Regions from separate parts of the Homo sapiens genome. Here region 2 is linked to region 1. Evidence: fine-mapped expression QTL. A gene starts in region 1. The other region holds a variant in brackets. All regions are shown on one strand. Distances are between the middles of the regions.

Evidence for each region. PIP is the estimated chance that this variant, and not a neighbour inherited with it, causes the effect.
Region 2: its variant is the best candidate, but not a certain one, in a credible set for the expression of DPH6 in monocytes after LPS (Fairfax 2014, PIP 0.53).

The regions. Positions count from the first base shown.
Region 1 is chr15:35,543,515-35,547,915 of GRCh38, reverse strand. DPH6 (diphthamine biosynthesis 6) reads left to right here and starts at 1,751. Exons shown (of 9, transcript NM_080650.4): 1 at 1,751-1,797. The coding sequence starts at 1,775. It overlaps DPH6-DT (DPH6 divergent transcript), which reads right to left and starts at 1,721. Exons shown (of 3, transcript NR_038251.1): 1 at 1,443-1,721. RefSeq lists silencers at 1,279-1,328, 1,629-1,768 and an enhancer at 1,816-2,750.
Region 2 is chr15:35,583,868-35,588,268 of GRCh38, reverse strand. The region is part of intron 1 of DPH6-DT (DPH6 divergent transcript); the gene reads right to left. Among named protein-coding and RNA genes, the nearest start is that of DPH6-DT, 40 kb to the right of the region's middle. The variant G/A (reference allele first, on the strand shown) is at 2,099.

The sequences.
Region 1 (4,401 bases):
CCTTCTTTCTTGCCTATTAAATTCTCCACCCCTTAAAACCACTCCATGTGTGTCTGTGTCATTTTACCCAATTCGGCATGAGACGAGAGCCCTGGTGCTTCTTCCACTCATTGGAGCTGTATCATTTTAAGTGTGTTTCACGTATTTATCTCCTCCAATTAGACTGCAAACTTCTTAAATACTTGACTCATTTGGTAAATATTCATAACTGCAAAATCTTAAAGCTGTATGATTCTAGACGCTAAAACTGATATGTAGACTGTCACTGCTCTAGTCACCCCTACTATTAGAGTTGAGAATGTCAAAATAAAATTGAATGCTTACTATGTACCTGGCATAATTTTAAGTTCCCTACATATATTAACTTACTTAATTCATGCCTTTGGCATCATCCCTCATGACTTTCTTTCTCTTGTATCCCATATCGAATTTGATTCTATTGGCTCTATCTTCAAAATAGAGCTGGAATCCTCTTACTTCTCACCAAATTCACCATGTTGATTCTAGGCTCCGCCATCTCTCTACTGGAACACTGTAACAGCTTCCTAATAGGTGGATTCTCAACACTGCAATCCTTTTAAAATTTTAAGTCACACCCTTCAAAAGTCTGCAATTACCTACAAGACCCTATATAATCCTTCCCCTCCATCACCTTAACCTGCTCTCCACTACTCTCTGCTTTGCTCAATCTGCTCCAGCAACACGGATCTGCCTTAATCTTCCACAAACACACAACGCACCTAGAGCCTTCGATTTTTTTTTCTTGTCTGGAGCACACCCCAATCATACACATAGCGAACTCTCCTTATTTAAATTGGCTCAACTCTCATCTTACCAATAAGGCCTACATAGACACGATTTAATTCTGCAATTTGCCTCTCCACCTCTCTCCTGACTCTCCCCCACCGCACCCCGCCCCTTTCCAATAGCACTTTTCACTCTTCAACAGACTATTTACCTTTAAGATATGTATTGTCTGTTCTCTCCATCCCCATTTAAGCTCTATGCCCGGAATGCCGGGTTTTTGTTTTATTTACGGTTGTATCCACAGAGTCTAAAACAGTGCCTGGTACACGAAAGGCACTCAATACATACTTGGCAAATAAACTTAGAAGCTAGATTTTCTTTCTGCAAGGCCATTGCTCTTTGGTGAAGAGCCTGGCCTGGCCTTGTCAAATACACAAGCTTGACCAAGAGCCAAAGCCACAGAGGGCCTAGAGGTGGGGGGGGCTAGCCCCAGATTTAAAAATTACCACAGCCCCTGGGGATCTGAGTTTCACATCTGGACACACAGGTTTGGAGGACAGAGGAGATGTAAGTTAAAAAGCAGAAGTGTACAGTTGTTTCTGTTCTGTGGGGTGAGGAAGGACAAATTTCTTCTGCGCTTGCACGTCCGCAACTGTGTCAATTTGCAGCAATTGGGACGCTAAATCCCCTCTTACCAAAACAAATCCTGCGCCACTGGGCTTGGGCTCTGCAACGCGGACCTTGCCCTTCCCCCGGCAGCTTCAGTGCCCTCACTTAGGTGGTTAGGCCGTGCCTAAACCTCATTCTTTCCTGGGCCGAGATGTCCCTGCCACAGGGTCAAGGTGCCAAGGTGCCGCACCCTCCGCGCTCAGGTGTCCCGCAGGCAGCCGCGGGGCTCGCAGCGCCGATCCGCGGACAGGCGGCGGAGCGAACACCCGGGCGAGGCCCCGCGGTGCGTCACGCGAGCTGCGGCGCGACCTCCTGGCTCCCGCCCGCGCTCGCCGCACGCACGCGCACTGCGCCCAGCATGAGGGTCGCGGCTCTGATCAGGTAATGCGGTCCTGGAGCCGCCTCCTTCCTCCTAGGCCAGGCTCTCGTCCCTTCCAGCCGCCGCTAGCGCCGAAAGAGTGGGTGTCTCCGTCTGAGTCGCGCGTTGGGGGTTCCGCGGCTCCTCCGAGCCACAGGAAGAGGCGGAGCCTTCGCTGTTGCCGGCCCGCATGTGCCTCGGCCCCTGGCTGGCGCGCCTCCTCCCTGTCTGTCGCTCTCTGGTCTTCTAGCCCTTAAACTTGGATTCCCATTGGATTCAAGTGGGAAATTAAAAAAAGTACCGACGCCTGGGCCCCACCGCCAGAGGGATTGGTTTAATTACTTCTGTGCGACCCGGCGTCTGATTTTTTTTTTTCAAGCTCTAATGAGCCGTGAAGTTTGGAGCCACTACCTTATTCCATCAACTCAGTTAATAACCCTCGCCCTTTCCCCCTCGCTTTCTTCGTCCTCTTCTGTAGTTCCTTTGGTCAGCTGGGTCCGCCGCAGCCTGGCTTCCTCCCTAGTTGTAAGTGTTTCCGCCCATCCCAAGAAGTCCACCCCTCCCTCATCTTCACAGATGTGGATTGCTTATGGCATGTGTGTGTTTCTGCCTTTGGGCACTCAAGTACAGAGATCTCTCTTCGTGGTAGAGACCGAATTGTACTAGTCTTATGCTAGATCCAGTTGCTGTTGCTTCGGACTCTCATCATTGCTTTAGAGTGACCTTACCCTATACTCCGTATTCCAAAAGGAGTTTGATGTCTGTAGTAACCAAATCATAAATTTAAGTGTCTAAATAAGTCCTGTGACTGACAAACCAAAAACAAACCTGCTTAAATATTTCCATACTCAATCTATAAACTGAGGCAGAAGGGAACACACTAGCAACATTAAAAAGTTAGACTACTTAAATACTTGTTTCATGAGATTTTGCCCTGTAGAGTGTCTTAGATACAGTGCAACGATGTGCTTGCTTTTGTAATCCAATTGAAGATTTCATAAACGTTTTCGTTAAGTCCCTTAGGTAATTGATACTGGCTGTAAGTTTTGACCTATTAAGGACTTGATATGAGATTTCAGACCTACTGTAGTGTCTGGAATATTCCGGTTCCCTTTCCTTCAATGTCATTTTTAGGAGACTAGACCATAATGTCACAATAATTATTGTTGTTCAGTAAATGTCCTCTGTAACATAAATGATTAAGCTTTAACCATTGTGTCTTATTTTAAGAATTAAAAGTACCCCAGGAAGTGAATAATTCAAATTTACATCGCTTGCCAAAAGTTTAACGATTAAAGTAAAGCACAACAAACAAAGACTTAGAAGTATTGGAGGGGAGGAGAGAAGATTGGTAGAGTCAGTTACACTAAATAACCTGTAATGTGCATATGTTGCTTTATAATAAAAAAAGTTTGCTAAAAAAGCAATGTTGGAAAATTCTTGCTGAAGCGTAAGAGCTGTAAGGACATATGCTGTAAGTATGAATACGTAAGCATTTACCTGTATGCTTATGATACAGATGCCTATGTATTCTATATATATGCATTATATATAATTATGTATTATAAGTGAATAAGTGAAACTGGGATTCTTACATATCTTTCTAAGAAGATTATTTTCCTTTTTTAAATTTTTTTTTTATTATACTTTAAGTTCTGGGTTACATGTGCAGAACGTGCAGTTTTTTTACATAGGTATACATGTGCCACGGTGGTTTGCTGCACCCATCAACCCATCACCTACATTAGGTATTTCTCCTAATGTTATCCCTCCCCTAACCCCCAAACCCCCACAGGCCCCAGTGTGTGATGTGCCCCTCCCTGTGTCCATATGCTCTCATAGAACATTATTTTTCTAATAAATAAATGAGTCTTTGAATTTTATAGTTGAATGTTATTTTGAGGATTATCCAGGCAGACCATTCATTAATTTGCAATGAAGTATGCAAACCTAAGCACATTGAATAACTTAGCTTAGTATCCCAGAGTTGGAAACTAAAATAGAGCTGTGAGACCTCTCACCTAACATACATGTGTACTTAATGGAGTTCTAAGAGGACAGTAAGGTACTCTGCATTTCCCAAGCTTGTCTGATATTCAAAACCTTTTGTTAGAGTAATTGGTTAGTATTTTGTTGGACACCAGTGTTCCACAGAACACAGTTTGGTAAATACTGCTTAAAACCATATTTGAAATGTTGGCATATTTCAAAATAAATTGTCAGACTCAGTTCTGATTCTGGATGCACACCCTTCAGTCTTTAATATCTGAAACAATTAGTCATATCTTTTTATCCTGGGGAATCAGAGCAGTAAGGTTCGATATGGGAAGTTGTGGAAGACCTACTTATGGGGATACCGAACCTGAAGAGAGGAAGAATGGACTTTTTAAAACTTCACTTTGGCCCTTGTGCTCTCCTTCCACTTGAGAAGTTTTGGAATGAGAGTTGTTATTGATGGGAGGGTGGAAGAGGCAGAAATGTTGAAAACTAAGATAAAAGGCAACAAGGCCAGTTTCTGAGGTGCTCAGTTTCTTGAGCTATGAAGAGGTCTAAACATTGCCTGGGGATTTGCAGGCCTTAAGCAAATATTGGAAAGAAGGGAAACAGGAGGAAAAAGAAATGTAAAA
Region 2 (4,401 bases), 40 kb before region 1:
ACAAAAATTAGTCAGCATGGTGGCACATGCCTGTAATTCCAGCTACTCAGGAGGCTGAGGCACAAGAATTGCTTGAACCCGGGAGGCAGAGGTTGCAGTCAGCTGAGATCATGCCACTGCACTGTAGCCTGGGTGACAGATCTAGACTCCATCTCAAAAAAAAGGAAAATATTAGAAGTAGGGGAAAAGGCTCAGGAGTGATAGCATCATGCTGAGCTCCAAGTAGGTGGTTGTGCTTGACCTTGATAGAATATGAATTTTTCTGTGTGCCTTGGTGTTTTTCCAATCTCATTTATTTTCCAAAATTTGAAAGAGAATAGGGACTGACCTAGTTTCCAATTTTGGAGTCTTTTAAAATATTTTCTATTAATCCAGGTAAGCGATTGTATTTTGAATATTTATAGAAAGTATGACTGTTTTTAAGATTACAAAGAGGTGTTATGCTTCTGACTTCTGGTGGGGAGAAGAACAGTGACAGTATCTTTGGGTACACAGTGACACAAAGATAGGAACAATAAAAACCCATGCATCATAAAATCGCACACACACACACACATGCTCACAATCATTATGGGCTTTCACCTATGTTACCAGGTTGCTATAGTTCAAAAGTATAACAAACTGCATGAGGCATCACAATTGCTTCATAAGGGAGTCTTACTTAAAATTCAGTTTGCCATCAGCAAGTGGTAAAGATGAAAAGAATCTTATAGGATTCATACTTTGAATTAGCTTGTGAGGAAAAGAAGGTTTTCTGCCAGGAAAAGTGGAAGATGTTGCGTAGTATCTGCCATTTTTAGTTTTAGTTACTGTAATTGTTCGGGGTCAGTGAAATCAAACTTTAGGTATTTGAGTCTTTTTTCTGGCTGAACTTTTTTTGGTAATTAAAGAGCAAAAACTTTAGGAGAGTTTATTTGTAACTGTTGTTGGATGGTGGGATGAAACAATTATAATGAATTCATCTGTATCTCATTATTGCAAGCAGCAAATAAGTCTGTTGCTTAGTGATAGTGATTATAAGAGAGAAACAAGTAGAATTTCATTGCAGAAAAATATTCATTATATAAAATTTGATAAAAAGGTCATTATTTTACAGAGAAGCTCATTGAATTTAATAAGCTTTGTTACATAGAATACCTTTTTTAATATAAGATACCATGACAACTTTTACTCTTTTCCTTTATCATATTTTAAGCCCAAGTCACGTGAAATGCAATGGTCAGTTTCTTATAGCTCTGTGGTCTGTGTCATAAGAAAAATGCAAAAAGTAATAAATTATTGAGGACATCAAAGTAACAGAATTCATGCAATGACAATGTGAAACATAAGGGAAATGTGGTTTCAAAGAAGACCATGACTTACAAAAGTTTGGGATTTCTGGACTGATTTCTTGAAGCAGAAAAAAAAATAATTTCAGCAGACTTTAATTCCTCATTGCTGCAAAATAACATTTCTTTTTTAATATAGATTGGAAATGGATTTTCAAGGACCTATATAATTGTTCTCAGAGCCATAGCTGTGGCTTCCATTTGTTCTTACTATTTAAATTCAACACCTGCTGAGAACCAAAATTTCTAACCATGTAGGAGGAAGGAAAATATTAGATTTCATTTTACCATGGATGAACTCAAATCAATTTGACAAAACTGAGCTAATTTTAGCTTCCTGCCTACTGACTCCCAGTAAAAAGAGCATGAGTGAGACTATCAGTCTTTATCCCTATTAAATAAGCTACTAATTTGTTACTTGTTACTCCAAGTCATGGGGTGAACAATTGAACTAAAGCTAGGAAAGAAGTCATGTCTAAGTGCCACAAGTTCAGCAAAGTTGTAATGAGACATCATAAGTTTACAGAAGGAGAAAAGTGTCCAAGACGACATGGAATTCAAGGTAAGACACAAATAAACAGAACACCACCAGAAGAGACTGACCTTGTGGCTTAGGAGGCGTACCTTGCATTACTCTTTAAATTCCTTTTGTGATGCAAAATGATCACTGTAGAAATTGAAAAGAAATATAATGGAAAAGAAAAGCTTTATGTATGTTTAAACTTAAATAGAAAACAAGGCAGTTGGCAGTTAAATGCAAAATTAATGGT[G/A]ATTAAACAGATAACTGAGCCTATATCATTTTCAAGAAAAGTCAAATGCTTGTTCACTTGGCCCATTTGAAGCTTATGTTTCATTATGCTGTTTGGCTATTATTTCTGGAGGTAGGCATTGTGCACATATCAAAATTTACAGTCAACAGACCCTTTAGCTCTTGTCCTTCCAGTGTCAATTTACTCTAGATTTTTGTATTTGCTATAGATTTCTGCAGCTACTATAGATTTGTCTAGCATGTATTTTTTCATGTTTTACTGAATCTACTGAATCCAATTATATATTATTTTAAAGACAGTCTAGTAAAACGAACACATAGCTCTAAATAAAGAATCATCATTAGTGGCTTTCATTTCAGAATGTAAGAACAATGGAAAGGCAGGTTGATAATACACAATTTCACCTGTGAGACATGATTTTCTGTTTACACATGATCAAAAGAAAAACAAGCTTACTGACTTTAATATAGGCCATTTTTCTAACTCAGCCTTAAGTGATTTCAACCTCAAGCTTCCTATTTTCAAAGACATTGAGTCTTAAGGGACAGGCTGTATTTTAAGCTAATATGTCAAATTGATCGACTTAAAAACATATCTACCTGTGATGTACGTCTCAAACAAAATCCATAAGAAAAAATTGACAGTGTTTGTTGGAATCTAGATAAATAACCCCAATAGAATAACATTTTGAGTTAAAATAAAAAGATTTAGGTGAAATATTTCTAACTTTTAGAAGTTCATAAACAGGAACAACAAAAGAAAATCTCTCTCTCTCTTTCTGGCACTCTCTCTCTCCTTCATCGGCTTTTACTCTAACAAGTACTTCCATTTTTAGCTGTGAAGAATTGATTGATTTGAAGTTGTGCCATTGTCTTCTAATTAGTGGTAAAGATTAAAAATAGTAGTCTCTATATTATTTAGTGTTAGGCAATAACGGCATTTACTGAAAATACGGAGAATTTGTGCCCACTGGCCCTTTAATTGCCTGTGAGTTAATAAGTACTCATTAATCAATTTGAAAAGGAAACAAAATTCCTACTGATTATCATGTGAGCAATATTGCTGGGCCCTGGTAAAATGTGAAGTAAGTAAAGTTTTTTTTTGGATGCCCTGTCTTCCCAACTACTCCATTATTCTTGTTCTCTTCCTCTTCTCTTCCAACCTCCCTCCCCAACCCATAATAGTGACAATTTTAGCCCAAGTAGAAGAGGATATATGCAAGGCAGTTGTTTTGGAGAGAGGGAGGATTTTCAGCAGATGGACTTAATGACGGTAACTCTGAAAATAAATCATATGTGTGACTAGGTTAAGATGCTTTCTACAATTTTCAGTTATTGTTTTGGGGTATTTTTCAAAAAACACTTAATCAACCAGACAACAAATATTGATGATGTTTAGTATATTTTGTAGTAAGAGTGCACCTTGTTTATTCCCCTGGTCCTATAAACTAAACACACTTAAACTATCTTTTAATGATAATTCTGTTTTTACATGGTAAGGTGAGAACTAGAACTGGCATCTAAATACTTGATGTTCTAAGTTCAAAGAGACACCAGTAATTAGAGCCAGTATATTCCTTCTAGGACTTACAGAGAGACACTCTTCTAATGTAACCATAAAGACCACCAACACAACCACCTTAATCAATACAAAAGAAAGACTTGATATGGGAAAGTTGAAAATGAAGGCAATTGCTTTCCCATGGAGTAGGGCTGATGGCATACTTCTTCTTGCCAAAGTAGAGGAAGGGCCCAGTAGAATTATTCTCAATGATTGCTGGAATAGTCCTGCCTGCCGCTAAGTTGTCAACTGCTGATAATTTATTTAAAAGTTTCCAGGCTACTTTCCAGGCTACTCAGCTGATGCTGAGTGTGAAGAAAGGGCAAGAGGAATGTGGTGTATGAGAAAAGGCAGTGAGACAGCCTGTAATTCACTGTTAAATATGGACCATGATCCATGATTTTCTATGTAGACCATGAGTTAAATGGCTGGGCTTGACCTCTCTTGCCAGTATCAACTCTCTAAGCCTGTTGTACAAACCAAGGGGACCCCACCAGTAAGAAACTATACAGTATGTGGCTGTGAGAGGGAAAAAGATTAACACCAACCTGAAGCTCTCATTCCAGGAGATTATGGAGAGGGCATTACCAGGCCCTCCAAGAAAGCAGAGAAGAATGATGGCCAGTAAGCATAAATAGAGAACAGCCTCTTGAAGGGAAACAGGTAAGAAAGGAAGCTATGTCCACCAGAGAAGTGCAGGAAAGAGGGAAGGAAAATGAGCCATAAATATAACTGAATATAGA